Regions from separate parts of the Homo sapiens genome. Here all the other regions are linked to region 2. The links come from fine-mapping of genetic effects on gene expression. A gene starts in region 2. Each other region holds a variant in brackets. All regions are shown on one strand. Distances are from middle to middle.

Region 1 (10,596 bases), 130 kb before region 2:
AGCCAGCTAGGGGCAGATCTGCAGCAAAGAAAGAGCAAAGGTCCTAATGTGGAAACAAGCTCAGTCTGTTCAGGGAATGGAAAGAAGACCACTTGAGCTAGACTGTGCCACATGATGTTGCAGGAGAGGACTGGCTGGGGCACTAGGATGGGGCGTTTAGGCCTTTGGGAAACACTGGCTTTCCAGTCTAAGTGATGAAATTGTTTTAAGCATGAGAGTGGAATATCGGCTTTAACTTTAAAAGATTATTGTAGCCAATATACTGCTTGCAACTTGTTAACTGTGTGTGCTTGGACAAGCCGCTTTATCATTGTCAGTTTTGATTTCTTCATTTGTAAAGTCGAGGTAATAACAGTATCTATTACAGGAAGTTCATATGAGGATTAAGTGAAGCAATGCATGGAAAGTATTTTGCACACTGCCTGGTGCATAATAATTGTTCAATAAATGTTTTCAACTAAATCTCTGTTACAGTATTAGCATAATATTTAACAGAACTGAGCTTAATTCACTATCCCCAATTATGCAAAATAATAACTAAAAATACTTTTTAATTAGTCTTGATTCCAAATTCTCTACTGTTGAAAGGCTGGGTATTTCCATACTGAATCAACACTTGGCATTTTTCTCTTACCTAACCCTATAATACATCCCTGGGCTATTTATGTGCATGTGTATACCTCTACTCACACACACACTAGATTACTTATCTTTGTGTTACCCCAGGTTCCACAGTACTCAATGCATTGAATATAAGATAAGCAAGTCTTTAGGTAGGTGGGTGGGTAGGTGGAGGAATGGACTAACAGACATATGGAGGGTAAAAATCATGAGAGCAAGAGAAAAGAAGGCAGTGTTTCAAATTAAAGTATTTAAAAGAATAAGGTTTTTAAGTTACGAGTATATAAAATGCATAACATCATTTTTTGGCATGTTTATTACTTTATTCATGCATTTACATAGTACCGGATGCCATGCTGAAAGCATAACAGAAGACACAGCCCTACGGTAAGTATTTACTACCTTCTAATCTTGCCTCATCTCTACTAAGAATCTTCAGCAACACTCTGAGAAACATGAAAGAGCTACTTATTTACCAAGATTGTGAAGAATTATGAGTGCTAGAAACAAAATTGTGAAACCTGCAGTGCTTAACCTTTGGTTTTCTTTGCTTAACCTTTGCTTTCCTCACACACTCTGATCTATTTGTGATTGTAATATATAACATCAAGATTTTAATAGTTTATATGCAGAATTCCAATTTCTAGGCTTTGAAACAAAGATTCACAATAGTTGTGGAATCATTTGTTTACTGATCTGCATATAATATGCAAATTGTTTCTTCACACTTAAAAGTGTGTAATGGAGGAAAAGTGACCCTATATCCAAATATAGAGGACCACAGAAACTTGAGAAGTTACTGATTTAATTAAATAAAATTAGTAAAATAGCAATATAGAACAAGAAAATAATGTCCTTTATTGGAGGTTGTCCTATGCTATACAAAGGAACTTTATATACATTATCTTATTTTGATCTTCACAAAAACTCAAATATGGAAGATTTTATGTCCTGCACCTTATGGACATAAAACTGATACACTGTTATACAATTTGCCCCAAGTTTCCAAATCAGTCAGTGACAAAACTGGAACTCTAGCCTAGGCATTCTCAGTGTTATTTTCTGCCACCCCAAACTAATTAAAAATGCCACAAATAGTGAAATTTATTAAAACTTAAAGTGTTTATATTTAGGAAGAGACAGAGGAACCAACTATGTATAAAACAAGTTGCAAGTAGTGTTATTAAAATTCCTTTTGGAATATTATAAATCCTTTTAAGAAGGGCAATATTTTCTTTATGTAAGCATGATTCTTCTCTGATCATTAAAATACTGTATACTGCCTAGCTCCAGATGATAATAATAGTGATAAAGCCTTTATCTCTTGAAAACTTATATACCAGACTCTGTTCTAAATACTTCACATTCATCAACTTTCATTCATGTAACAATTTTATGGGGTAGGTATTACTATCATCATCATCATCATTGCCGTCATTATATAGATGAAAAAAGAAGAAGCATAAAGAGGTTAAGCAACTTATCCTTGACCATTTGGCTAGTAAATTGGAAAGCCAGGATTTACACGCAGGTAGATTTGGTCTAGTGACTCTTAGCTGCAACATTATGCTGCCTCTTTAAAGAAAGGCCTCTTCTGGTGAGGTGCAGTGGCTCACGCCTGTAATCCTAGCACTTTGGGAGGCCGAGGCGGACGGATCACGAGGTCAGGAGATCAGGAGATCGAGACCATCCCGGCTAACACGGTGAAACCCCGTCTCTACTAAAAAATACAAAAAATTAGCCGGGCGTGGTGGTGGGTGCCTGTAGTCTCAGCTACGCGGGAGGCTGAGGCAGGAGAATGGTGTGAACCTGGGAGGTGGAGCTTGCAGTGAGCCAAGATCATGCCATTGCACTCCAGCCTGGGCAACAGAACGAGACTCTGTCTCACAAAAAAAAAAAAGAAAGAAAGAAAGGCCTCTTCTGTAACCTATCTCAGTGTCTCCCCTATTAGATTCAACCAATGATGAAAGAAGAATCACTAACGTGGGTTAAAGATTTAAACCCCTTCCATGCGTATCTAAGCAATACCAATCTGGTCACCCAGTGACCTACACTTCATCTTCAAAGTGCTGAGGAACCATATGCAAAGTGTCTAGCAAAGAACCTGGCACAATGTTTGCAGCTATCAATGACTGAGAGTTTCTACAAGCCTGGCATGATGCTAAGTGTTTTTCTATATATAGGAATGCCATAAATGTTAAAATGGTTCTTTTTTTTCTGGATTGGCTAGATACAAGGCTGTTTCTTTGGAAATTAAGCTGGGCAATGGAGAAAATTTATTTTCATAAAGGCGAGAACTGTTAAATCACTGAGCATAGAAAGCTGCCATACACGGGTTGTGGACTACCATGGCTCTGGCTCCTGATGAGATTCATTCTCATCCACACAAGAAAGTAAGGAGGGCCATTATCCTCAGCAAACTAACACAGGAACAGAAAACCCAACACTGCATGTTCTTGTAAGTGGAAGCTGAACAATGAGAACACATGAACACAGGGAGGGGAACAACGCACACTGGGGCCTGTGAGGGGTGCAGGGGAGAAAGAGCATCAGGATAGATAGCTAATGCATGTGATGGGTTGATAGATGCAGCAAACTACCACGGCACACGTTTACCTATGTAACAAACCTGCATGCCCTGCACATGTATCCCAGAACTTAAAATTAAAATTAAATTAAATTTAAAAAGAAGAAAGAAAGGAGAAGTATCAATGGGAAGACAAGATCCTAGGCTGCACTCAGCATCTGCAGGGAGATTTTCCTCTCTAGGAAAAGGAAAACTAAAAGCACAAAGATTAAAATCTTATACGGATAATTTTCTAAATCAATTAAGTGAATTATAAATAAGTTCTCTCCCCCAGTTCCTTTAGATATTATGATTTCTTGACCTTTTCAAGGGAAAACTTAATTTACAAAAAACTGTTTTTACAGTTAACTTTTCAGAAATTCACATATCATGCAAAACAAAGTACACCAGCTTCCCTTGCTGAAACTACAGTTCAGAAAAATTTTATTTCAAAATAACAGGAAACCACTCATTCATTCATTCAACAAGAATTTATTGACCAAAAACTGGCTTACATACTCTGTTAAATAAAGTAGACATAAAAATGAAGAATAAAAGCTCCCTCCCACTATGGATCCCATTCTTTAAAACATGTCAGTGAGGTGGGGTGTGGTGGCTCACACCTATAATCCCAGAACTTTGGGAGGTCAAGGCAGGCAGATCTCTTGAGGTCAGGAGTTCAAGATCAACCTGGCCAATACAGTGAAACCCCCGTCTCTACTAAAAAAATACAAAAATTGGCCAGGTGTGGTGGCATGTGCCTATAATCCCAGCTACTCGGGAGGCTGAAGCATGAGAATTGCTTGAACCTGGGAGGTGGGGGCTGCAGTGAGCCAAGATAGCACCACTGCACTCCAGCCTGGGCAACAGAGAGAGACTCTGTCTCAAAAAATAAAAATAACATAAAATATATCAATGACTATTTCTAACTTGTCATTGACACTGTTTGAATGACACAGAAATGGTCATATGAAATACTGTGACATTGGTCTGAAAAAGACACCTTTTAAAAAACACTAAGGAGATTAAATAGATAGGTAGATAGATATAGAGATATATTGGTATACATATTGATATATACTAAGTTCCCTTATAAAGGTGAATATATTCAGCATTAATGGACCTCAGAGAAAGACCAGAAATCCAGGATGTCTACTGAATCTAGGAAATTATCCAAAAGGATCCATATCTTTCTCCCCCTCAATGTTCTTCAAATTCCTGGTTGATTAATATATTATATCTAAACAAGAAAAATGTAGAACTACTTACAGTAACAGAGAGGCCGGGGAAGGTAGGAAGTGGTGAATATACAACTAAGACAGGGATCTAGATTTCACTGCACATTCCACAGCCACTATAAATGATATTGATTTTCAGATTAACTGCTCTTTTATATTACTCATACCTCCTTTCCCTTCTATTAGAGAACTGAATTGTCTGTGCATCTGCTTGATTCCACTGAGAGGCCTGAATCACCACTTGGAAATATCAATCATGCCTTTAAAATTCATCTCTACTAAAAGCCTGCAGTGAAATGATAATGCACTAACCTGTCTCCAGTTAATGGCAAAATAATAGTTGCTTGAGAAGAAAACACAATGAAAGATAATCTCATTTCAGGGCTGCAAAATAAGAAAAGAGGCAGTTAAAACATTTTTAAAAAGAAATATTGATACGATACAGATGTATAGTTAGGGAGGTTCATTTAAAATTGGTCTCACTGAATGGTCCAGGCTTCTTTTAAATGACATTCCCTAAGTAAATAGACGAACTCTGCTTAACATTGTTGCATAAGTCATTTTGGATTTAGTCAACGCTTCCCAGCACTCACATACTCCTCCATGACCCATAAGGACTTGCATTTAGAGAGAGACTAACTGGAAAGATAAATTCTAAGCTGATGTAAAATTCTTTCGTAGAAAATTCCTCTTCCCTTGGTTTTCTACAACATTTCCTTTAAAGGTGGCCAGGCCCTTCAAAGTGATTATGGTTATCAACACTTATGGGTGGAGAGTACCCAGTTTGACTTAATGACCATAACTATGATATGAGTCTATAAAAAAGTCATCCTGAAGTAAGACTACTTAAAGAGTCATGGAAAATGTGAAAGAAACAATAAATCACTTTCTGCTTAGGCATTTTTTATTTTCTAAGTCTCAAACATGCTATTTTCCATTGGCAACAAGTGCCCCAGTCAGCTATATCTTTCAAGTTTTAGGCATGTCTCTCACAGAACGGTTCTTGCTTCTCGGACACTCTCTGCAACTACTACTAAGATTCAAAACTGAAGATATGAAACTAGAATCTATAAACTGAAAATCAGAATCCTCTCAAAGGCTTATACATATTTTAAAAGTCAGTCTCTTCATTAGTCACCCCTTATTC[A/G]CTTCCTACAATGTATTGTTAGTAATTGAGCAACTAGGCTTGAGCCAGACAACTGTGTATTATAGAATTCCAACTTAAAAACCAGATCAATGAGTTAAGATAAGAGCTTGCTTCTTTAAAATGTTGTAGTGATGTGATTCATTGCTTTTGATCAAAATCTACATGACACCCTTTTCACATTGAAGGATTAAATTAGAAAATTTATAAACAACTGTCTGTTCTGCCTTTGACATTTAGGGACATAGGATCTTGTTTGTTTTTCTTTCCTAGACAGTTTTACCTCAGACCCTGTCCAGAAATGAGTGTTAAACTTGGCTTCTTAAGCAAGGGACTGATGATTGAACATGGACAGGCATACATTTTTATAGGGATAACTTTACTGCTGCCAATAACTGAAAGCAAGGATTGCCTAGGCCTCTACAGATTGTTTGAAGTTACTTGCAACATGACTTTCAAAATGTTTTGATCATCCAAGCCTGTTTTACAGAAAACATTTGGGCTAACAAGACTGAAAGAAGCAATATTTAATGATACAGTTCCTATTCATGTCCTTTCCATTATCTTGATAAACTTGTGTTTGCTCATTGCATTTTTTCTTTAAAAAAAAAAGAAGGAAAAAAAAAGCCTCAAAAGCCTAGTGTCCTGAGGTTATTTTTAAATAGGAGATGCCACTAATTCCTAGTTACCTCTAAATAAGAGAGTAAGCTGGATTTCATACCAGTAATGCTTTTTATAGGAGAGGAAACCAGTCTTTCCTGGTGATGCTTATTGCATATATAGAACAGTTAAATTTTAAACCAACCACACACCCACACATTGTGTAAACACAAGTCGTTGCTTTAAACACACACACAAGTGCCTTTTCTGGTAGCGGGTTATTAACACATGTTCATTTGAAGTTTTCCAACACTTTTTGTTTGTTTTAATGAGGGCCTCTATAATGCTAAGAAATGTGTGGAAAGAAAAATATATTATGGATACTATTCGCATAAAATTTATTTTTTTAATGTGATAAATTATGAGAAAGCATAACTGAAATTCAAAACAGATGAAAATTCGGAAAGAAAAAGACATTTGGAATAGTATTTGAAGATGCTTCCCCAGAGTCTGAGCCAAGTTTCTGGGATCCAGATGAAATAAGCCCTCAAGGACTGAAGGGCTGTCCTAATAACAGCATGTGTGCAATACGACCTTGAGGCACTTAAAAGTAACATTTCAGGAAAAGTTTTTCCTATAAAAGGTTTCAGAAAAGGGAAATTCTACACTTTGCTCTACTTCTCCACTGCCTAGAAAAGTAAAGTAAGAAAGATACCTCACAAATCTCTCCGCAAGTTGCTGTACGAAATTATAAATTTCAATCCAGTTATTTGCCACACTCCCAGACCTGAAAGATGAAATTGAACTGATCAGAGAAACAAAACACGGAACTGAAAAGTAAACATTTTGAAATGGTTCCTTCTTCAATGCCACGAACATAGGGGCACCTGGCCTCTTTTTCAAGCTAAGTAAGGGTATCTGTAGCTGAAACTTTGGTGGTACCCAGAGTTAAAGAAGTCAGTCCCAGAGCAAGACTCCGTCAAAAAAAAAAAGAAGAAGAAGAAGTCAGCCCGTTTTCTGGGGTGGGTAAATACCTGCCTAATTGTTTAGAGTGGAACCCAGCTCTTCAGAGTAAACACAAAAGCCTTTCTTCGCAGGAAATGCAAACCACATTGGGCATGTTAACCCTAGGCTTTTCCTGGCTCCAATGAAAGCGCTATGATTAGGATAAAACCAGGCAAACTTTAGCCTGCGTACGAGCAGGGTCGAGGAGGTGGGTAAGGACTCTGTGGCCGATGGAGCGTGGCCCGCAAGAGGCCACACTCCCATTTCCCAAGAGGCCAAAAGACTGGCAAACAGTGAATACCCCAACTCCCCAAAGAGCCAAGTAGCCCGGGGCTCCAATCACTACCCCCGACCCGGCTGATCTCCGCCCACACAGATCCGAACGCGCTTGCCCTTTGAAAGAAGACAGCAACAGGGCACCCCTCCGCGGGTTTCCAACACCACTCCCCGGGGTGCGCACACGCATCTCAGCCTCAGCCCCAGCTGATCCAGTGCCGCCCTCACCAGGAGACCCTGGACCTCCCTCGCACACTCACTTGTCCAGGACGAAGTAGAGATCAAAGGCTCTTCTGCAGGAGGGCTGCTCCTGGGCGCGCAGCAGCCCCCCGGGACCGCTGAGCACCAACAGCCACAGCCCGGGGAACAGCCAGCTCCCGGGGCTGCGGGCCGGGGACCGCTCCGCCACCATCCTGCGGCCGGGGGCCTGAGACTCCCTCCCGCTCGCAGTCCCCTAAGCTCAGGAGGGTCGCAAAGGTGGCGGGAGTCACCCGGCACGCACTCTGGGGTGGGGGGCGGCGAGCAGCTGAGACGCCGGCGCCTGCGGCAGCGGGACCCACCAGCTGACAGGGAGGGAGAGAGGGAGGTCCTGAGAGGACAAAGGGAGTCTCCGCCACCGCCGCAGCTGCCGCCGGAACTCTTGACGAATCCCAGTGGAAGCGCGATCCAGTCCTCCCCCTCCCGATTCCGGAGAGTTCCTGCAGACAATGCGGGCCCACGGCGACAGCTCGCGAAAGGAGTTCCTCTCCGGCCTGGGGCCGAGCCTCCAGCGCCCGCCTCGGACCCGGACCTGGAACCCACCCCGCCTGGAGGGCTGAAGTCCCCCCCGCTGCCGTGCGCTTCGGGACAAGGGGTCCCTGGGACGCGGCGACGGCAGAACAAACTAGGAGTGGAGACTCTTCTCCTCCGGCGGCCCCAACTCCCTCCGCACTCCGAAACTTTCCTCCCGGTGCTGGACTCTGGCACTGCGCTGACAGGCCGTCCCCTTTAGGGGAGGAGGCTAGCTGGCCCTGGGACTCCCGGCTGGAGAGAAGCCACGCCGAGGGCAGGAGCCCGCTCGGGCCGGGTCTGGGCTGCGTGTGTCAGTGTGCGCCTGGGGACGAGGGCGGGGCCCCAGCTGAAGCCTCCGAGCCACACATGCACACTTGTGGGTTCCTGCCGAGTTGAAGATGACTAACGCTTGCCAGATTTGGGAAAGGGAAGAAGGAGTTTAGAAAAACAAAAGTTATCTAGAAACTAAACATACCCGTATGTCCTGCAGGCCTGGCCTATTTTAGCAGCTGTGCTAAAACAGCCCCCATGCGTGGTTCACAAACCCAAGACTAAGGATTCCATGGGAGGTGACGGCCTCCTCACTCCTCACTCCACCCCACCCCTACTACCACAAACACTCTTTATGAACTTCCTCTTTTTCTTCTAAAGAAACCTGCTTAGTTTTTTTTTTTTTTTTCTTTAAAAAAAGCCAAGCCAAGGAAAGGCCGGAGTGGGGAGTGGGAGGGGATAGCAGGCCTCTTTGGGAGTGGAAAGTTGTACCTCAAAATATTTCAGCCCACTGTCATTTCCCTGCAAGCTCCAGTTTTGGAGAATTTCAGCTTTGGGCAAGCTAGGTCTCCTTTGCAAAACTTGTGCAAGCACTCAAGTTTGTGCACAAATCCTCTGTCTACTAGTTCTGCTCTCCCTCCTCTCTCTTCCCCCCACCTCCGTGACTTCCGCCCTCCCTTAGTCAAAACTGGCTTTTAGAACCTAAATACCTTTTCATTTTTAACAAAATCAATGCTTTATGTAGTACTTACATATACATCTCTTCTGTTTGTTGCCATATGTATTTAACTTTTCATTTATTATATTTGATATACAACCAGATATGTCAGCTCTTTGAAGATAAAAATTAGTTACTTTAACAAAGATTCATTGAGTGCCTATTATTTGCTAGGCACTGTTCCAGAAGTGGAGGTTAGTGCACAGAACAAGATAACAAGCCCTTGCTTTCATGAAGCTGACAGTCTGGCTGAAGAGTGAAAACAGACAATAAGAAATAAATACATAAGCAAGGAAAAAAAATGTCCATATTGGAAAGGTGGCCTGTAGAAATTTAAAATATTGTGATGATAAAGAATGACAGACTCAGTGACTAACAAAAAAGACCCAGTCATTCCAAGAGCTCTAAGGGGAAACATTTGGAGTTACTGCAAAGGTCCATAGACATTAGCTTAGCATATTCAAAAAAGAAAAAAAAAAAACTGTGTAGCTGGAGCTTTGCAGGTAAGATGATGTAAGACAAATAGGCAAGGGCCAGATTATGTGATGCTTTGTTTACTGAGATAAGGAATTCAGATATTTAATATTGAGTGTGACAGGAGGTTATTAGAGGGGTTTAAGCCCAGGAGTGGAGTGGCAGATGAATTGATATGATCTGTGTTTTTCAAAGATCATTCTGGCTGCAATGAGACAATGAATTTGGAGTTAGCAACAGTGACAACAGGGAGAGCAGTTAGGAGACTATTGCAGTAGCAACATGTTGACAAACAATCCTGAGGTTCATAAATTTGGAAAGGAGAACTTCATTTCTTATAAAGGGTTACAGCTGCAGGCTGGACATCTTGACAGGCTGGGAAGTGTAGCCTCTGGCAGAGACAAAAAGCAGGCACTTTGAGGGAGGAAAGGGTGGAACAGGAATTTATGCTAAATGAGTTGGCCAAGTATACATATTCAACAGGTTATAGGAGGAACTATGAATATTTCTGAAGCAAGGGGTACATGAACTATGCATATTTCTGAAGCAGGTGGGTTAAGTTTCCACATCAAAGTGAACATGGGACATATGCAACATGCATGTTTAGTAAGCAAACATGAATAGTAAGCAAACATGCAAGTTGCATATGTCTCATGTTCACTTTGAGGTGGAGACTTAACAATTAAATGTATTATAATTAGGCCCTATATGTCAAAAGGTGAAACAGAAGACATGAAGGCACTCAGTGCCACAGCCTCTGTAAACCAGCCAGAACCAGTCTATGGTCAGTGGTCTCTTATCAGGAGAGTTATTAAAATCAGTCTCTTGTCCAGTCAGAGCTGTAGTTATGGCTTGTGGAACAGGGGTAGGGGTGGAGGATTAATTAGTTAGTGTCTTGCAGTCAGTAAGATGC
Region 2 (10,596 bases):
GCAAGGGAGCAGTTTGGGAGCATAATTTGTGAAGAAATTGAACCATATTTCCAATACTCTTTAATACAAGGTAAATCACCACTATTGTGGTTCCTAACTGGTATCCGCTTCTCAAATACTCTTTGTCTCTCTCTTTCTTCCTTTCTTTTTACTTTCTTTCTCTCGCTTCTCTTTTCCTGGAGAAAATGAAATGTCTCTCTCTTCAGGCCTCAGGAAAGTGTACCATGGGTTTATTCCAAGTACTGGACATTTGTGTCCCCTGCCTAGACCTCTTTCCCAGAAGAGCCATGCTTTCTGCTGCTTTTTCCCCAGCAGCCCGAATTCTTACAGTCCATACCTCAGAAAGCTAACTGGGATTAGATGTCAAGGAGTGTAGTCTGCCCAGGATATATATGCTGTGTGTCTATCGTTGCCTCTTTATTTAACTCAGGAATTACAATCCACCTAAAACAGAGAAGAAAAGGGTGGCACACAGGTACTGAATTGGGATGATGTCCATTCTCCTGGCTGTGTGAAGAAATTTGATGTAAAGCCTCTCAATGTTGTCACATTCCCAAGGCCTAGAGTTAGACTTCTCAAAATTTCATTTGAGACTGCTGGACACCAATTTGAGACTGCTAGACATCCCCTGATCTGCAGTCTGCCTAAAAATCCTGACCCAGAGGGTAAGGAGGTTCAGAGTGACTGATGGAGAACTGGCTACAACCAGTCAACCCCCTTCACACTGAGATGCGTTCAAAGGGTGTGGTGTCTGAGTCTAGGAAGGACTTTGGAACCTACAGATTTGACAAAAATCCAAGCCTTTTCTTGCCAGATCTTTACACACTCATCTGGGGAAGAGTATAACATTTGGGAGAACCCAGGGGGTTGAAATAGTGGATATTGGATTTGGTTCAGAGGTCACACTCACACAGATGAGTATGGGGCACTGATTTCATATCTGTTGGTAGTTGTGCACAATGTCACTTCGGTTTGCTAGCCCTTCTAAAAGTCATACTCAGAGGCCATTAAGCCAGTTCACTACAACCCAGATCCAGGAGAGGAAGATAATAACATACAGCTTTCAAAGACTATCCCATTCTCAGCTGAACTCCAACACAAGTGTAAGTAAAACTTGGGAATGGCTAAGAGAGAAAGTTTTAAACTTGAGAAAGGTAGATTATCATTGTAATGATAATGGTGGTAGTAGTAGCTGCAGGAGCAGCAGGATTAAAAGCAGGATCATTTACGAGGAAAAGCCCAAGAGAGAAAAGTATGAGTCAGAAGTAATGATCCCTACAGTTGGGAGCCTGAAGTCCTTCCTCACAGGCTACAAAATTACCCAACCCTGAGTCTCTGGCTTTCCCAGGGCCAGCCTGGAAAACATTTGCTCATGTAATACCCAGTGAGCCAACTACAATACTTAGGGTGAGGAACAGACCTAAACTGAGTTTGCAATGTATACTTATAAAAAACGAGTAGCCCTTCCCACACCCCACCCCCTCACATCATCCTTTACCCAACTCAGCAAGCATGGCTCTTCTCGACTCACCAAAATGTAAAACAAACAAACAAACCCCTCTGGGTCTTTTTAAAAACCCACCATGTATCTTTCTCTTGATAAAGGCAAAGTGGTAGAAAATGAGTTAACAACCCTCTGAACAACATTTTTGGCACAGGCCTGGTGTTTTTCTTAATTGACCAGCCCATCATTTCTGTTTCTCTTTCATGTACAAGTAGTCAGTAAAGTTTATCCCTTAAAAAGTTCCTTATTCTGAATGGTGAGGCTAGGTAATACAATACTCCTCCTTGAAGATCTATTCTCTTCCTCCCTCAACCCTCACAGCCCCTTCCAGAGACCTCCCTGTGGGAAATTAATAAGCTTAGGAAGGAGCTGCCACTGTCTGCTCCATTGGCATCCTCTTATCTTCCAGTGTGTGGGTTTTTTCCCCCCCTTTCACCATGAATTGCCATACTCTTTTGACAATCAAGCCTTTGCTGGCATAGTGCTTTGGCAATAGAGTTAGAGGTGGGTAAGCCAGGACCTAGAAAGATATAGAAAAAGAAAATCAGTGTGTTTTCATTCTCATGGGATAATAATCTTTACGTGAATTATTCTTGGAGATGTTACCTGCCTCTTATCACAGAAGTTGAAATATTTTGGGCTCCATTTTTGAACCCTGGGAAGAGAAAGAGTGTTCCCATTCTAATACTCCCTAAGAATTAAAATTCCCTTTCTTACCCTTTCTCCACCCTCTCACTTAGGTCATAAAAGCCACCTGGGGTGTCATTTATCAACCTCTCTCCAGCCCACTCTTCCAAAATAACACTACAGTTTCCTACATGTGTATTTTTGCCAGGACTCCAAAGAGCCTTGCTAAAGTGGAACAAGGTGAGCATACCCACTCTTCATTGTCATTCTTCTAATTACTTAATTGGAAATAAAATCCTAGGGAAGAGAGCTCCAAATATATGCATAAACCCATTGTTCCATATGAATTACATAAAACTATTGACTAGGTACACTTTTATAGTACTGTCTGAGGCTGAATAAATGCCTCAACCCTTCATTTAGTATCAGTGAATTCCAGTAAGTATTAATGCAGAGTGATTTCAAAGTAGTTTATGTACCATTTTAGCCCATAAATTTCTACAGAAATAAAAATAATTTGTAGATTTTCTTTATCCCCTATTAATTATTGTCATTTAGGACATTTATATTACCAAGCAAAATGTGTACCACTTAAATTACTAGAAAACTCTTCAAGTAAGAATTTCGACTTAATCTTACTTATATTGTTTTGTTATGTCAGTTATTTAACTCATAATAAAAAGGGTAGGTCAGATTCATAAAATGTGAGAAATTCTTATATTTAAGGATCTCTACCTGAAAGCAGTAGGAAAAAAATTAATTAGAGGGCAAAAAAGTGAAACTGAAATGAAGCATCTGTTGGCCAGATTCTCAATAAATTGCTCCCTTCTCAGATGTATAAAATTGTCGCTGTTTTCTAGCTTAAGACATAAAAAGGTCAAGCTGTTCCACCCTCAACTTAAGTACCAAAAACATTATTTTATACAAACTGGAGTCAAGGTTTTAGTACCTCAAAAGAAATATAGTTTAAATGGTCTCTGTATTTAATAAGAGAAAGGCCAGGCACAAGAAAAATGCCTTCCATTTAGAGTTTATTTTCTAAATGTCCACATTCTGGAGTAGAGGCTTACATATTTACAATATGTAAGATAATTTTTTAATGGTTTGCATGGACAGATGACTTTTCCTGAAAGATAAAATTCCAATTCTCTAAATAACAGCAAAAGAAAGCATTAAGGAGTGTTCTGTTAGACAGATTAATGAAATTATGTTCTTAAACACTGCTCCTCACACACCATATTGCATTTATCAGTCTAGTTTCTAAGGGACCACATGACTCTCTTATGGCTACTTTTCTTTCTTAACTTGAAGTTGTTTACACCCGTGCCTCTTCTGCTCTTTATTTTTCTTCTTTCTTCTACTCTGAATTAACTTAAGTTTCTGGCCACTATTCTTCAAACCTGAGGTTTATTTTCCAGATGTTTGAGACATTATTTTCACATTTCTAATGCTTCCACCCATTCTTTAAAGAAGTATTAGGGGACCATGTGTCCATACTTTGTGTGTGTGTGTGTGTGTGTGTTTGTGTGTGTGTAGAGAGAGAGAGAGACTGAGAAGTGAATCTAGTATTCAATGGAGCAATCAGTCAGAAGACAATTGGTAGCTCAGTATAGCTGCAGATTCTTACATACAGGCATGTGAGAGAGCCCTCATTGCACTGAGCCTTGGTCATTAGGAGCCAACCTTAGCCGAAGTAGATAAAATTGCACATAGCCAAAGTACATAAAACTGCACTTCAAGAAGCTTTCTTTGAAAAGTCAGTAGCTAACCTGAAAACTAAGGGATTCCCCATTTTCTCTGAATATATGGGGATTTTGCAGCCCTTCCTTCTGTGAATTTCAGCTTAATTCTAGGCAGCAATTCGGAATTTGCCTGGGGTACTAACCAGAAAAGAGAAGGAAATACACACACACACACACACACACACACAGAGAGAGAGAGAGAGAGAGAGAGAGAGAGAACAAGGAAGAACATGAACTTCATGGGAAAGTCCTTGCACTTGTTTCTCCTCAGCAAAATCCTCCCCTGGCCTCCTGGGACTGCAGTCACCAGGCTGTCAAAGCCTCAATACCCCACTGAGTTCCAGAGAAGGGTCTCAAAGCTGGGAGAGGATCAAACTAACATGGTAAGCTGCTCTTTGCCAACTCCCCAAATACATTATTTCAACACTAGGAAAAACAACAACGAGGCTGTCTCCTTACGTTGTGGTTCTGCCTCCTCCACTTTAGCTAGCTACACAATCCGATTTATCCTAATGCTGACAGATTGCCCACTTCAAAGTAGTGGTGGTGTGTGTGGGGCTGAAGGAGTTGAGAAACTGTCTATACCACTCAAAGGCCTTTCTTCCTTTAGGAGTAGAGAATTGAACTGTGAAAAAGAAGCCCGAGATTCCCCAGCGACGTGGTGTTGCAGCCCCGTTGAAGGAGTCAACTTGCAGGCTGTTAAAGACCTCAAGTCATTAGCATCAGCTGCTGCACTAAAGGGGCAAGTCAGCGCCTCTAAGTGGCTTAGCGCACAAACGAGGCTCCCGAGACGGCCTCGGCAACTCCATCCCCTCCTCCACCACCCGCTGGATGTGAAAAGCTTTCCGGAGCCCATCTTGGTAATCATTTTTATTTTTAATCACCCTTGCCCCCCAACCCCAAGACCTCAGAGTGCCAACAGTACCCATTATAGACTCCCTCTGGGGCTGCGCAGAACGCACCAAGCAGAGGGGGGGAAAAACCCCACGAAAACAAAAACAAACAAAAAAAAAACAGGAACTGTTTGAGTCCAGTAACCTGCGCTCTTCCCACCAACCTCCCACACCCCACCTCCGCCCACGTACCCGTGTCCTGGGACTAGGAGGTACCGTTATGTCCCCTTCCGAGGTCTGGTGACATTCTCACTCCAACCTCATCTCCCAAGCCACGGGAAGGCTGAGCCAAGTTCTCACCAAAGCGCATCCTTTCTGAATTTTGCAGGGGGAAGCTTGGTAGTGTTGGCGCTCCTGAAGAGAGACGACGCCCGTTTATCACCCCCAGGCAACTAGCTGCGCAAATCAGCGGTGGCTCCAGGGCTAGAGAATCCCTGGAGCTAACCGCACCCCTCTCCCTTTCACGGAACGCGGACTCCGGGGAAATACGCACGGGGTCCGCACGCGCTGGGTGTCCAGCTCTCTGTCACAGCTTCTCCAAGTGCCTAGTGAAACGGGGAAAGGCCCTCTCCAATCATTTTGGTACCTTCCTTTCCAATCCTGAAACGATTTTCCCCTCCTAGCAGTCCCAGAGGGCCCGAGCTTTAGGAGGAGGCGGGCCGGGACGCTCTCTGAGAGGCGTTGCCACCCGGGGTAGGCGCTCAGGATCTGCGGGGCGCGGGCAGGCCGGGGGAAAAAGCTGCGAGGCAGGCGGCGCCGGAGGGAGCGCCTGGCCCAGCAAAGAGTTAAAGGGAGGGGACGTGGGCTGTCACGCGTCATTGGGCAGATTATGTGCAGCAAACAAAAAGTGTGTGTCTGCGTGCCAGTCAGTCACTGCATCGGGTCCATCTGTACAACTCTCTCCGTTTCTCCGTCTCTCTCCCTCCCTCCCTCCCTCCACCCCCCCAATCTTTTTCTCCCCATCTCTCCATCTCTCTCTTATCTCTTCAGGAAGAGCCTAAAAGGCGGCAACACCAACACCTCTTGACATGGAAATACACTGATACAATAGGCAAAAGGAAACACTCGATTGCATCTTCCCGGTTCCAGGTGGCCTTATTTGGGAGATTCTATACTGACCTTATTCCTGGTAAGTCTATTTGCATTGATGTGGGAGGGGGATGGGAGGAAGACAGTTTGGTGGAAAGAGTAGAACATTTTGTCTTCCGTCTCCTTATTATCCAGAAGAGAGAGAAAAATAATTCTTGAGGGGCTGTCTACTGCCAGTAATATTGTACAAAAGGAGGAGCGGGTGGTGAGCACTTTGCCGGAGAAGCCGGAGACTGGGGAGCGCGCGGCCGCCAGACAATGCCTGCCTAGAGGGACGGGCCAGTGGCGGGCAGCAGCGACCGGCTTTCAGAAAGCCCCGCCGGCTCTGGGGTATATTCCCAGGGCAGGCGGATAAGAACCTGGGCCTAGAGCGGGGCACGGAGCTGTGAAACGTTGCGTGGCAAAGGCGACCGCACGCGGGCGGGCGCTCCTAGGCTCTTGCCCAGCGGTTATTGTGATGGGCTTGAGGCTCGTGGCGCCTGGCGCTGCGACTCCGACCGCTATTAGCGCGGCGTAGTGAGGACCTTTTTGCCGTATTGTTAGGTAGAACTGCATTTTAATGACTGTGTCCCTGCTGTTGCCCGAAGTGACGGGGCGACCTCCCGGCACAATGAAATGCTTGTGTGAAAGAGATTTTTAAAAGGAAGAGAGAAATTGGGGAATAAAACGCTGAATTGAAGGAAATTGAAAAGAGGAGAATAGGATTCCGTTGAAAAGGAGATAAGAGGTTATGGGGTTTTTAAAATGTATTTTAATTTGAAATGAAAAAATCAGGATGTCTACCTTGTATGGGGTAAAAATGACCAGGGATAGATGATGCAGAATAAAAAAGTTTCTACTTTATGGATATTTTCCCTTATTTCTGCTGTCTGGGAGATACAGCCCAACACTTGACATTTGGGGGATGCAAGAGGATGAATGGAAAATGAGGCTAACCAAAGTTTTAGGCTATGTTAGCTGGAATGGGGGGAAAAAAGCACACCTTGTAATCACACGTGTAAGGTTAACTGGTTAATATAAATTAAAATAAAAATAGATGTCACTGACATTATTCCATAATGAACAGCTTTGCAGGAAAAGAATTAGATCTACTCTTTCCTGCTACTTTAATTATATAAAACATACATAAATAATTGCCAACAGTGACATTATTAGGGAACAACAAACTTGGAGGAATATTTTGATTAGTCTGAAATACTAAGCAATGCAGCTAGTTCAAAGCTAGTTTAAAAATTTAAATACCTGGGTTTTTTTGGGTTTTTTTTTTTTTGTTTTTTTTTTTTTTTTTTTTTTTTAGTGATAAGTCTTGTATGGGGTGTCCAGAGGAAGGAAAATGTCCCTTTATGACACCTTAATAAAGGGCATTGGGGCATTACTTTCTAAATTGCTGCGGATTAAACAGCTGGGGAGCCCACTGAGGAGTGCTCAAGCAGGGCTGCCCCCTCTTGCCCAAAAAGGGTCATATGGGGTAGGGGGAGTGAAAATTTACCAGTCATTACACACAGTATTTCAGACTGGGGACACTTTAGGCCTGTCCTGTACCTGCTCACTTCATGAGCCACATGTGACTCAATCCACCCCCTTGTATAACAAGGTAACCGGGATTCACTCTCATCCATAAATAAGCACGTCCAGAAAAAAAAATTACCTCTGCTTGCTGCTTTTAATTAAAGCCTCAGAGGAACAGTGTTGGATTATGGTAATGAGCAGACATACGTCCCTTCTTGTAGGCTGCAGAGAAAGGTTAGCTGACACAGAATTAGTGGCCCTGACATTCCACTTGAAATCCATTCGCCATGCTCCGCTGTCTCCGCCTGCTCACTAACGCTGTTCCCCTCCTTGGAAGAAAAGAAAAAAATCAGCTCCCGGGCACCCAGTTCAATACATAGGCAGACAGGCACTTTCCCCCAAGGGTTAGAAGTTTCTTTCAGTAAGGGAAGTCTATAGGCTGGTTTAAAAAATTATATATATGTATATATATATATATGTGTGTGTGTGTGTGTGTGTGTGTGTGTACATATATATATAATTCTGCCTGGAACTTCACCTCTAAAACCTACCCAATCCAACATCAAGGTAATGCAAAAATTATCTAGTCTTTCCTAGCCCTTTCTTTTCTTTCTCCCAAGCAGTCAGCTCCAGATCTCCCACTATTCTAATTATTTTAACAAGTATCCCTTAGTTTTCATCTTTAAAATATGCCATGTTTATCTGCTTTAATTTTGAAATAAGAGCTATGCAAAAATCAGGCATGTGCAAGGAAAATCTACCTAGTATTTGGACAGTTCTGCTTGGGTTAATGGCGTTAAAAGCAGTAACATAACTCACTTTCTTGTGCTGTGTGTCTATCTCCAGTGATGGAGGATACTGGCATCCAGCGAGGCATCTGGGATGGAGATGCCAAGGCTGTCCAACAATGTCTGACAGATATTTTTACCAGCGTTTACACCACCTGCGACATCCCTGAGAATGCTATATTTGGTCCCTGTGTCCTGAGCCATACTTCCCTATATGACAGCATAGCTTTCATAGCTCTCAAGTCTACTGACAAGAGAACAGTACCGTATATCTTTCGGGTAAGTCTCCACTGTAGCTGTGTAGGTGTATGAGGGTAATGTCCTGTTGGAAATGGACTAAAAATAATTATAATGACAAGTGGAGATAGGTTTTGCCTGTGGAAAAATGCAATAATGCAAGCAATCCCATTTCACACATCAAAAATTAGAAAAGGAAAATTAAACTCAAATTATTGTCAACTGATTTTTTGGAATAAATGACAAAATTTGATTTGGAATGTTAGAAATATCTAAATCAGTGCTTCAGTTCTGGATTATCCTGGTGATGAACACGACTTCCTAAACTCTGGGAGATTTCACTGGGGTGGAGGCTATTTGCATACTAACTAGTTTCTGCAAGTTCTTTGACAAGTATTGGGTACATCTGCCTTCCATTTGAGGAGGCTTCTTCATCCCCTAAAGATTAGTTTCTTTGGTAATATTAGCTAGTGCCCAGAGTTTGTATTTAAATAAAAATGTTTATGGTTTTGACAGTAAAGCATCATCAAATCCATATGTCTGAATTGGAAGATTCAGACCTCTCATTTCCTATTCTTCTTTACAAAGAAAATCTATTAATTGTTCTAGCCAAGATTAGGAACATGATTGCCATAGCATAATTTCTAAGATCTAAGCTTGCTTTATTTCTGAAACAAACAAAATTCTCCATACCTTTGTAATGTGGAATAACTTAGAAGTAAACTCTCAAGGGGTTAACACTAAATTATAAGAAGAAATTTCCTCATTTAGTATTCAACCAATATATAAAAACGGTGACTTAAATAAACTATATGATTGATGCAGTGTTTCAAAGAATGGTTATCTTGCCTAATGGTTACAAACATGAGGACAGGTCCCAGCTTGGGCCAAACTTTTGGAAGCGTGGTCTCAGACAATTTTTGGAAAAGACTAACATAGAAGAAATGGTCTTGATTCTTCTGATTTCATTCCCTCATGAGGGTCCCTCTCCCCCTCTCCTTCTTGTCTTCTTTCATTTATTTCAAACCGCAGGTAGACACCTCAGCAGCAAATGGTTCCTCAGAAGGTCTCATGTGGCTGCGGTTGGTCCAATCGGCCAGAGATAAGGAAGAGCAGAACCTTGAAGCCTACATAAAAAACGGACAGCTGTTCTACCGCTCTCTCCGCAGGATTGCCAAAGACGAGGAGTTACTAGTTTGGTACGGGAAAGAACTGACTGAGTTACTCTTGCTCTGCCCCTCTAGATCCCACAACAAAATGAATGGTAGGTTGGCTCGCGACCGGCGTGTGGGCCCTTAACTAGCGGGGGAGAGACGCAGGGAGCGGCAGGGGCTCACCCGGCGCGTTGGCGCGCCTTTCTTCCCTTCGGGTGTCTCATAGGAAGATTCTGAGATGTAGTCTGGAATGAAGTTAAACAGATAGGTGAGGATAAAGCGAGGAAACTTGCTTGTTTGCTGTATTCCCTCCAAATCAGGAGGGAAAGTTAGATCAGGTTGGTCATTCTTTTCTCAGGCACTCAGGCCCTGAGAAATGAAGGTGGATTTGTCAAGGGGATGGTGGCAAACTGGCTTGGGGGCGATGCTGAGTAATCATGTGGTGTGCGTGTGTGTGTGTGTGTGCGTGCGTGCGTGTGTGTGGTGTTTGCTCACTAAGCAGGGTCGTCCCCTTACACATGCCTGGAATGCAGCCAACGTTTCCAGTTTGAGTTCCCCTATGTGGCGCATCTGCGTTTCCGCTGCCCCAAGAGACTTCACAGCGCTGATATAAGTCCCCAAGACGAACAAGGCGGCGGCGTGGGCACCAAGGACCACGGGGGCGGCGGCGGCGGTGGCAAAGACCAGCAGCAGCAGCAGCAGGAGGCACCTTTAGGCCCGGGTCCCAAGTTTTGCAAAGCCGGCCCCCTCCACCACTACCCATCCCCCTCCCCGGAAAGCAGCAACCCATCCGCTGCCGCCGGCGGCAGCAGCGCGAAGCCATCCACAGACTTCCACAACCTGGCCAGGGAGCTGGAAAACTCCCGGGGAGGCAGCAGCTGCTCCCCAGCCCAGAGCCTCAGCAGCGGTAGCGGCAGCGGCGGCGGCGGCGGCCACCAGGAGGCGGAGCTGAGTCCCGACGGCATCGCCACGGGCGGCGGCAAAGGAAAGAGGAAATTCCCGGAGGAGGCGGCGGAGGGCGGCGGTGGCGCTGGTCTGGTAGGGGGCCGGGGC
Region 3 (10,596 bases), 29 kb before region 2:
GAGTGCAGTGGCATGATCTCTGCTCACTGCAACCTCCACCTCCTGGGTTCAAGCGATTCTCCTGCCTCAGCATCCTGAGTAGCTGGGACTACAGGTGTGCACCACCACGCCCAGCTAATTTTTGTTTTTTTAGTAGAGATGGGGTTTCACCATGTTAGCCAGGATGGTCTCTATCTCTTGACCTCATGATCTGCCTGCCTCGGCCTCCCAAAGTGCTGGGATTACAGACATGAGCCACTGTGCCCAGCCTGAAATTCTTTATCAAGAATGGGATACTGAACATATGCAGAATAATAAACTTAGACCCTTATATCACCCCATATACATACATCACCTGAAATTACAAAACTACTATAATAAAATATAGAGGAAAAAGCTTCTTAACATTGGTCTTCGCAAAGATTTCTTGAATATGACCCCAAAAGCACTGACAATAAAAGCAAAAATAAACTGGATTTCATCAAACTAAAAAGGTTCTGTACAGCCAAGAAAACAACTAACAGAGTGAAGAGACAACCTACGAAATAAGAGAAGATACGTGCAAACCATACACCTAATGAGAGGATAATATCCAAAATATGTAAGGAAGCCAAACAACTCAATAACAAGAAAACAGCATGATTTTTAAATGGGCAAAGGACCCAAATGAACATTTCTCAAAAGACATTGAAAGGGCTAACAGGTTTATGAAACTAATCATCAGGAAAATGCAAATCAAAGTCACAATGAAATATCACTTCACATCTATTATAATGCCTTTTATGTTTAAAAAAAGATAGAAGATGTTGGTGAAGATGCAGAGAAAAAGGAATTCTTGCACATTGCTGGTGAGAATGTAAATTAGTATAGCAATTATGGAAAACAATATGGAGGTTTTTCAAAAAATTAAAAATAGAACTACCATATGAACCAGCAATTCCACTTCTGGGTACATATCCAAATGAAATTAAATCAGTATGTGGAAGAGATATCTGCACTCCTGTGTTTATTGCAGCATTATTCACAATAGCCAAGATATTTAATAAACTTAAGTGTCCATCAACAGATGAACAAATAAAATGTGGTACATATGCACAATGGAATACTATTCAGCCTTAAAAAAAGAAGAAAATTCTGTGATTTGTAACAACATGAATGGAACTTGAGGACATTATTCTAAGTAAAATAAGTCCAGCACAGAAAGACAAATACTGCATGATCTCACTTATATGCAGAATCTTTAAAAGTTGAATTAAAAGATGTAGAGAGTAGAATGGCAGTTACTAGGGGCTGGCTGGGGACAAAGAGAGTATGGGAAGATGCTGGTCACAAGGTTTAAAGTTTCAGTTAGACAGCAGAAATAAGTTCTGAAGATCTATTGTATAGCATGGTAACTATAGTTAATAATAATGTACTGTGTACTTGAGAATTGCTAAGAGAGCAGATTTTAAATTTTCTCACCACAAAAAAAAGTATTTGAGGTGATGTACATGCTAATTATCTTGATTCAATTATTCCAAATGTATACATATATCAAAGCATTATGTTGCACTGCACATATGTACACAATACAACTTTTTAAAAATATAAGCCAGTGTGGTAGGTCACGCCTATAATCCAAGTACTTTGGGAGGCTGAAGCAAGAGGATGGCTTGAGCAAAGCTGTTCAAGACCAGATCTGGCAACATAGTGAGACCCTGTCACTACAAAAAATAAATAAAAAATTATCCAGGCATGGTGGCACACACTTGTAGTCTCACCTACTCAGGAGGCTGATGTGGGAGGATCACTTGAGCCTGGGAGGTAGAGGTTGCAGCGCGCTGTAGTCACATCACTGCACTCCAGCCTGGGTGACAGAGCGAGACTGTCTCAAAAAATTTGTATATCTGTATCTATATCAGATATACATCAAATATTGTCAAATGCCAATTCAGGATCAATTGATAAAATGTGGGTTTTTCTTCTTAGATTGTCAATATGATGAGTTACACAGATTACTTTTCAATTATTGAACAAACCTTGCATTATTTGAGTAAATTGCATTTTTCCTTAGTGCTGGTTTCCTGTTTACCTTTTATATAATGCTGTGTTCAATTTCCTGATATTTTACCAGGGACTGTGTCTATGTTCATGAGGAATATATTGGTCTTTGGAATTTTTTTTCCTGTATCACCTTTGTTTGAATTTTATTCGTGGTTTCATAAAATAAATTATGAAATATCTCCTTTATTCCATTTTCTGGAAGAAAGTATGTAGCATTAGTGTTATATCTCCTTTAAATATTTAGTAGAATTTAACTAGCATTAGTGTTATATCTCCTTTAAACATTTAGTGGAATTTAACAGTTAAGACACCTAAGCATAAAGATTTCTTTTTCAGAAAGCTTTTTTGGTTAACTTTGAATTCGAGGTTTTAATAGCTGTAGGACCATTCATATTATCTATATCATCTTGGGTAAGTATTGGTAATTTGATGTATTTCAAGTAATTTGAATTTCACATAATTTGTCAGATTTGTTGCATTTATCAATAGTATTAACTTAGTATCCTCTTAGAGCCTGCAAAGTCAGTCATGGTGTCTCTTCTTTTATTCCTGATACTGGAAATTTGTGTCTTGTCTCTTTTTTCTTTGTAAATCTTGCTAGAGCTTTATAAATTGTATCAATCTTTTAAGGGTATCAGCTTGTGTTTTCCTTGATTATTGTGTTTCTGCTTTTTATTCATTTGATTTATGTTGTTATTTTTACTATTTCTTTCTGTTTCTTTTTTTTCTTGTTTCTAGTTTAAGGTGGGAGCTTAGATTTTTTTTTTTTAGAATGTTTTTTCCCCCTCTCTTTCTTTTCTTTCCTTTCCTTTCCTTCCTTCTTTCCTCCCTCCCTCCCTCCCTTCCTTCCTTCCCCTCTTTCTTTTTCCTTTCTTCCTTCCTTCCTTCCTTCCTTCCTTCCTTCCTTCCTTCCTTCTTTCTTTCTTTCTTTCTTTCCTTCAAGTCTCACTTTGTCACCCAGGCTGGAGTGCAGCACAAACATAGCTCACTGCACCCTCCATCTCCCAAGCAATACTCCAGCTTTGGCCCCCAAGTAGCTGAGAAAACAGGCGCACATAACTATGCCCAGCTAATTTTGTGTTTTTCTTGAGATGGAGTTTAGTCATGTTGCCAAGACTGATCTCAAACTTCTGAGCTCTAGCGATCTGCCCAGTGTGGCCTCCCAAAGTGCTGGGATTATAGGCATGAGCCACTGCACCTGATCTCTTCTTTTCTGATAGATGTATCTTGTTGTTATAAATTTTAATCCAAACAGTGACTTAGTTGCATCAAAAAAAAATTTATGTATTTTCATTTTTCTTCATTTCAAAATATTTTCTAATTTCTCTCGAGATTTCTGCTTTGATACATGGGTTATTTCAATACGTGTTATTTAACTTCCAAGGGTCTAGAAATTTTCCTGTTAATTTTCTGATATTTGTTTCTTGTTTAATATCCACTGTGGTCAGAGAACATCTTCATATATTCCAAATATTTTAAATTTGTTAATTTTTTTTTATGTTCCAGGACACGTCTTATCTTGGTAAAGATTCCAATTGCATGTGGGAAAAAATGTATATTTTGCTGTTGTTTGGGGGAGTGTTCTATAAATGCCAATTAGATCCAGTTGTTCGATAGTGATACTTTTTTCTTCTATATCCTGCTTGATTTTTTGGTCTACTAGTTATTCTGTTACTGAGAAAATAGTATTGGAGTCTTCAATTATAATTGTATATTAGTCTATTTACCTTTTAACTTCCATTCCTTTTTGTTTTGTGTAACTTAATTACTATTACTAGGTGCATACAGATTGAAGATGGTTTTATCTTATTGATAATTTGACTCCTTTAACATTATATACTGACCCTTTTATTCCTGGTAGTTTTTTGGCTATAAAGTCTATATCAGTAATCAATATAGCCACTGCAGATATCTATTGATTAATGTTTTCAGGTGTTCATTTTTATCATTCTACTATTGACCTAATATTTTTTGATCAAATATATTTGAACACACTATTTTGTAGACAGCATAAATTTGTTTTGTGGTGGTTTTTTTTCCCTGTCTTTTCCATTGGTGTGTTTAGAACATTTTCATTTAATACAATTATTGAAAGTTTGCATTTAGAGCTACCATTTTATTATTTGTTTTTGTTCAGTGTATCTCATTTCTGTTCTCCTGTTTTCCCTTTCCTATTTTAGGTTAAGCATTTTTTAGTATTCTGGATTATATGGTAACTTTGTGTTTAACTTTTTGAGAAATTACCTACCATATCTTTGCCAACACTTATTATTATTTTTTTCTTACAACCATTCTAGTGTTGTGAAGTGGTAGCTAGTGATTTAGGTTTATCCATTGTTTTTTATTATATATTTTGTATAGCTTTTAAGCAATTGCACTAGGGCTTATAAGATAGCATGCTAGTTTTGCACAGTCTACGTAGAATAAGTATTTCACTACTTTAGGTAGACTATAGATACATTACCACCATATGTGTCTTTTTACCCTCCCTCCACATTAAAACCCCATCACAAAATATTATCTCACCTGCAATGTGTGCAGTTGTGATAAAATATACGTGCATAAAATTTACCATTTTAACACTTTTCCTTAAGTGTACAGCTCAGTGGCATTAACTACATTCACACTGTTGTGCAACCTTCACCACTATCCATCTCCAGAACTTTTTCGTTGTTTCAAACAGAAACTCTGTACCCACTAAATCATAACTCTCCTTTCCTCCTCACCCCACTGTTCTACTTTTGGCCTCTATGAATTTTACTAATCTAAATACTTCATACAAGTAGAATTATAAAATATTTGTCAGTTTGTACCTAGCTTATTTTCCTTAGTATAATGTTTTCAAGGTTCATTCTTGTTGTAGTGTGTGGCGGTATATCATTAGGTTTTATGGGTAAATATTATTCCATTGTATACATATAAGATATTCTGTTTATTCATTCATCAGTTGATGGATATTTGGGTTGTTTCCACTTTTTAGTTATGAATAGTGATCCTATGAGCATGGGCATACAAGTTTTTGTGCGAACATATCTTTTAAACTCCCTTGAATATGTTATCAAAGGATAGAATTTCTGGATCATATGATAACTTAACCTTCTGAAGAACTG[T/C]CACATCCTTGGCAACACTTGTTATTATCTGTCCTTTTTATTATAACCAATCTAGTATGTGTGAAATGATACCTCATTGTTGTTTTGATTTAAATTTCCCTCATTACTAATAATATTGAGCATCTTTTCAAGTGCCTATTAGTGATTTTTAAATCTTCTTTAGAGAAATGTCTATTTAAATCCTTTGCTCTTTCTTTAATTGCATCACTTTTTTATTATTGAGTAGCAAGGGCTCTTTCTATACTGTAGCTGTAAGACTCTTATCAAATATATGATTTGCAAGTTCTCAATGTTTTTGTTGCTTTTAATTTGAATATCATATTATAGAATTCTTTAGAAAATCCAAAATCATGAAGATTTTACCTCTATGTTTTCTTCTAAGAACATTCAGTTTTTAGGACTTCGATCCATTTTGAGTTAATTTTTGTGTATGGTATGAGGTAAGGGTTTAGCTTCATTCTTTTGCCTGTGGCTATCCAATTGTCCCAGCACAATTTGTGGGGATTATTCTTTCCCCATTAATGTTTTAGGACCCTGTGCACAAAATGAGTTGGCCATGGAGATATGGGTTTAGTTCTAGATTCTCAATTCTGTGCATTGTGTTATGGACTGAATTGTGTTTCCTGCCCCCCATATACATGTATTGAAGCCCTAACCCATCTGTATTTGGAGATACAGCCTTTAAGAAGGTAATGAAGATTAAATGAGGTCATAAAAGTAGGACCTGAACCCAATAGGACGGGTATCCTTAGAACAAGAGAAAGAAACACCACAAGTGCATGCTCACATAGGAGAAGACAGTGAAAAGGCAGCCATCTGCAACTCAGGAAGAAAGTTCATACCAGAAACCATTCCTGATGACACCTTGATCTTGGACTTTCAGCCTCAAGACCTGTGAGAGAATACATTTCTGTTGCTTAAGCCATCCAGTCTGTGATATTCTGCTATGGCACCTAAGCAAATAAATAAAAATGTTTGTCTTGTGCCAGTATCACTCTGTTATTATTACAATTGCTTTGTAGTAGGTTTTGAAACCAAGACATATAAGCTCTCCTTATTTATTATTTTCAGGTTTGTTTTGGTATTCTGAGTTCCTTGCAATTTCGCATTAAGTTTAGAGTCAGCCATCAATGTCAGCAAAGTCAGCTGGGTTTCCAATAAAAATTATGTTGAATCTGTAGATCAACATATTGCCATTTTAACAATATTAAGTCTTACTATCCATGACCATGGTATGTTTTTTCACTTATTTAATCTTCTGTAATTTCTTTTAACAATATTTTGTAGTATTCAGGGTATAAATTTTGCGTTTATTTTGTTAAATTTGCTCCTGTGGGTATTTTATTCTTTCTGATGCTAATATGAATGAAATTGTTTACTTAACTTATTTTCATATTGTTTATTGTAAGTGTATAGACATACAAATTATTCTTGCAGAGTGATTTTGTATCCTGCAAAACTGTTTAACTTAGTTATTAGTATAGCCACGCCAGCTTTCTTGTGGTTGTTGTTTGCTTGAATTTTTTTTTTTTTTTTTAGATAGGATCTCACTCAGTCACACAGTTTGGAGTGCAGTGGCACCATCTCAACTCACTGCAACCTCCACCTCCCAGGTTCAAGTGATTCTCATGCCCCAGCTCCCTAAATAGCTGAGACTGCAGGTGTGTGCCACGATGCCTGGCTAATTTTTGTACTTTTAGTACAGATGGGATTTCACCAAGTTGGTCAAGCTGGTGTCAAATTCCTGGCCTCAAGTGATCTGCCCACCTCAGCCTCCAAAGTGCTGGAATTACAGGCATGAGCCACTGCACCTGGTCTTTGATATTTTTAAATCCTTTTATTTTCAATCTATTTATGTCTTTGAATATAAAGTTTATCCTGAAGACAACATATAGTTAAAGCATGTTTTTAAATCAAGTCTGATAATCTCTGCTTTTTGATTTAATTGTTTAATTTACCCTGATAAGAAGTTTCTGTTGCATGTATTTCATCCAGTATACAATTTATACTTTTCCATTCTTTTGCATGCTCATAATTTGTTGTTAGAAACTGGACATTTTAGATAATATATCTTAGTAACTCTGGAAACTGGTACCCCGCCCCCCTCTAGGATTGCGATTATTATTTTCTTGTTTATTTGTTTAGTGAGTGCTGAGTTATTTTAGTTGAAGTCTATTCCCTGGCTTCCATTCCCTCACTTTTCAACATACACATCATGGTAAGCCTCTGATGCTCTCTGATCAGTGAGGCACAGTTCTGGGTATATCTAACAATTATCCTGGGATAGTAGTGGTACTGGTAAGATTCTCTCCCACCCTTTCGCTGATTACACCTAGCTGTTAAACTCTACTAATTTCTGGCCTATTGCTTAATTGTTTCCAACAGTGCCCTGGAACATAATTTTTTCTTTACAAATAAATCCAATTGGCCGGGCATGGTGGCTCATGCCTGTAATCCCAGCACTTTGGGAGGCCAAGGCGGGAGGATCATCTGAGGTCAGGAGTTTGGGACGAGCCTGGCCAACACGGTGAAACCCCGTCTCTACTAAAAATACAAAAATTAGCTGGGCATGGTGGCAGGTGCCTGTAATCCCAGCTACTCAGGAGGCTGAGGCAGGAGAATCGCTTGAACCCATGAGGCAGAGGTTGCAGTGAGCTGAGATTGTGCCATTGCACTCCAGCCTGGGAGACACAGTGAGACTCTGTCTCAAAAAAAAAAAAAAAAAAAAGATATACAAATAAATCTAATAATATTGTGACACTTTATATGGGAAAGTTTCTGAGATCAGTGTTTGCTATTTGTATTAACTCCAAGAGAGCTCCTGTCAGCTATCTTATTTCCCAGTTCTCTCTTACAAACTAGCTGGCCTACAGTCTAGGCTATATCTTCATTTGGTCCCAAAATTTCCTCTCAATTGCTTTTCACCACAACTTCTACTGTTCTTGAGAGTGCCCTTAAGTTTAAAATTATCTACACTTTGTTTGGAATAAAGTAAGATCCCTTGGGAAGAGATAAAGAGTTGCATGCTTTATGGCCTGATTCTCTCCCTAGGCAAAATTTCTGAGCTAGAGCACGGAGTTGGGGGTGGAAACAATGACAAGCTTCTCTCTGAGTAATACCCTGGCTCTAATTGCTGAATGCTTGGTGGATGGGGTGAGAGAGGAGTTTGCAGGTCTTTCAGCTTGCCACTCATGGTGTGGAAACTTTACTTCAAAGGCCAAGGAAAAGGCTCCCAAGGCTCCAGTATTCCTGTTAACAGCCCAATTGGTTCATCTTACCCACTGCCCAGAAAAGCCAATTCCCTGAAAATAGCAGATACTGCAGCAAAGAAAGAGTTTAAGTATTGAAAGCTCGGAGGCTAAGGATAATTTGGCAGGCAGGGGGTTAGGGACTAGGTCCTGCTGATTGGTTCAGGATGAAATCATAGGTGTATCCAAAATGTTCTTCATGTGCTGAGTCAGTTTCAGGGTAGGGGGTCACAGGATTGGTTAAGTCAGTTCCCTGGTATGAGTCACAGATCCAGGTGGCATCAACTGGTCAGCCAAAGTGCAAAAGTCTGAAAAATACCTCAAAGACCAATATTGGGTTTTGACAATACCGTTGGTATCTATAAGAGCAATTAAAGAACTTACAAATCTTGTCATCTTCGGAACTGTGGCTGGTTATCATTTAACTACATCTACATCTTACCAGAATTCATTCCCCACTCATAATCCTAAGCTTTTGGCCTTTCATTAGTCCTACAAAGGTGGTTTCAGTCCCCAGAGGGGGTCAGTTTTTGGGGGAGACTATTATCCTTTATTTAAAGTTAAACTATAAGCTAAATTCCTTCCACAATTAGCTTCGCCTACACCCAGGAATGAGCAAACACAGTTAGCTTGTTAAGTTAGAAGTATGGCAGTGTCAGCTAGGTTACATTTCTCTCACTGTCATAATTTTTGCAAAGGTAGTTTCATTCTCAATGCACCACACCCAAGGTAGAACTTCCTTTTTACAAGAAAGTGTTGGGTGGGAGAAGGAAGCTTCCTCCTCCCAGTTGTATTCACCTAAGACTTAGCCTTAGCAACAGACAGCTACGGGCAGGACCAAAAAAGCTCAAGTTATGTCCTATTGCAATGAAAGCCCTGCAGCTGACACCTAAGGAATATAAAGAGTCATATTCTTGGCTGCAGCGTCTGGAGTAGAGTCTCTGCCTCACTGAGCTGGGAGGGGCAAGGAAAGTAGTAGTTTCAGTTCAAATGTCACAGACTCACCTCTCTTGACAGATATTCATAATTTCCTCTAATAGGTATTTCTTTATTTACCATTTGCCCTTAGGACCATTTCCAGAGAATTTAAGTGGTTGTTTCTTTACACACAATTTTCACCAGTTTCACTGAGGAGTGGCTCAGCAGAGTTTCCCACACTGCCATTCTAGAAGTCAATCTATTTCACTTGTATTTATTGTTCAGCTATATATGTTACTTACAAGACTCTTCTTTGCTTTCCACTCCTAATTTTCTGTTTTCCTATAGCTAACTCTGTCTCTCTCCTTTGAAACACTGACTTCCAACTTTATATCAGTCCTCTCAAGTTTTCAAACTCTTAGTTTCTATGAGATTTAGAAATCGGGCTTTTGTTTGTGCTGATGTTTACAGTGAATATTCAAGACTCTGATATTGGCTATAATTTTTTTTTAGAGTTAAAGTCTTCCTTTGTTGCTCAGGCTGGATTGCAGTGGCACAATTTTAACTTACTGTGGCCTTGAACTCCCAGGCTCATGCAATTCTCCCACCTCAGCTTCCTCAGTAGCTGGGACTACAGGAACGTGCCACCACAATCAGATAATTTGATTTATTTATTTATTGCAGAGACAGAATATTGCTATGTTGCCCAACCTGATCCTGAGCTCTTGGTCGCAAGTTATCCTCCCAGCTCAGTCTCCTAAAGCACTGAGATTGCAGGCATGAGCCATGACAACCGGCCTTGAGTATAATTTTAATCTAAGGCTTCAGGAAAGAGAGCATGCTTCTCCACCACTGTCCTCTTCCATTTTTTTGTCTGTGGGTTAGTTCAGGTTCAGGAGGAAGAGACAGGGATGGCAAAGTTGGAAAGAGAAAATGTTACTTCATTCTAAAATCTACACAGTTTGTGAATTCAAGGGAAGCCATTAGTAGGAGTTCCTATTGCTGTGCAGCTGATTTGTTTTGAGGTAGTCACCCTTTGTTGAAGCCTGGCTGGCTTCCTTGAAAACAATCAGCAAGTGACTAACCAGGCATAGTAAGACTGGTGCTGACACAGGAAACCACCAAATGATGAGAGACCTGGGGATGCCCAAAGGAAGTCAATAAAAGCATACTCTCAAATTCTTCCAGATTTTGGCTTGCAAAGCCTCCCAAGACTTCTGGAAATCCTTCCTAAATGCTACTAGGAATGTTCCAGCCAAAGGGCTCTGAGAAATGATTCTTTAAAATCTTGGATGCTT

Which allele goes with the higher level. Positions count from the first base shown, and alleles are read on the strand shown. Sizes are in standard deviations (SD) of each study's normalised expression.
For the expression in fibroblasts of the gene that starts at base 5,635 in region 2, A is the high allele of the variant in region 1 and G is the other (moderate effect, 0.47 SD a copy in GENCORD).
In carriers of allele C in region 3, the expression in fibroblasts of the gene that starts at base 5,635 in region 2 tends to be higher than with T alone (small effect, 0.20 SD a copy in GTEx).

The links.
Region 1: its variant is fine-mapped to the expression of PRDM8 in fibroblasts (GENCORD, PIP 0.95).
Region 3: its variant is fine-mapped to the expression of PRDM8 in fibroblasts (GTEx, PIP above 0.99).

What each region holds. Positions count from the first base shown.
Region 1 is chr4:80,064,699-80,075,294 of GRCh38, forward strand. It overlaps ANTXR2 (ANTXR cell adhesion molecule 2), which reads right to left and starts at 8,531. Exons shown (of 17, transcript NM_058172.6): 1 at 7,711-8,531; 2 at 6,885-6,956; 3 at 4,738-4,809. The coding sequence starts at 7,862. RefSeq lists a silencer at 7,821-7,980 and enhancers at 8,161-8,270, 8,601-8,880. The variant A/G (reference allele first, on the strand shown) is at 5,573.
Region 2 is chr4:80,191,869-80,202,464 of GRCh38, forward strand. PRDM8 (PR/SET domain 8) reads left to right here and starts at 5,635. Exons shown (of 4, transcript NM_001099403.2): 1 at 5,635-5,895; 2 at 8,211-8,431; 3 at 9,422-9,653; 4 at 10,046-10,596. The coding sequence starts at 8,213. PRDM8-AS1 (PRDM8 antisense RNA 1) reads right to left here and starts at 5,476. Exons shown (of 6, transcript NR_183912.1): 1 at 5,260-5,476; 2 at 4,959-5,120; 3 at 338-444. RefSeq lists enhancers at 4,245-4,862, 4,863-5,478, 8,956-10,155 and a silencer at 10,518-10,596.
Region 3 is chr4:80,163,205-80,173,800 of GRCh38, forward strand. No RefSeq gene overlaps it. Among named protein-coding and RNA genes, the nearest start is that of PRDM8-AS1, 29 kb to the right of the region's middle. The variant T/C (reference allele first, on the strand shown) is at 5,133.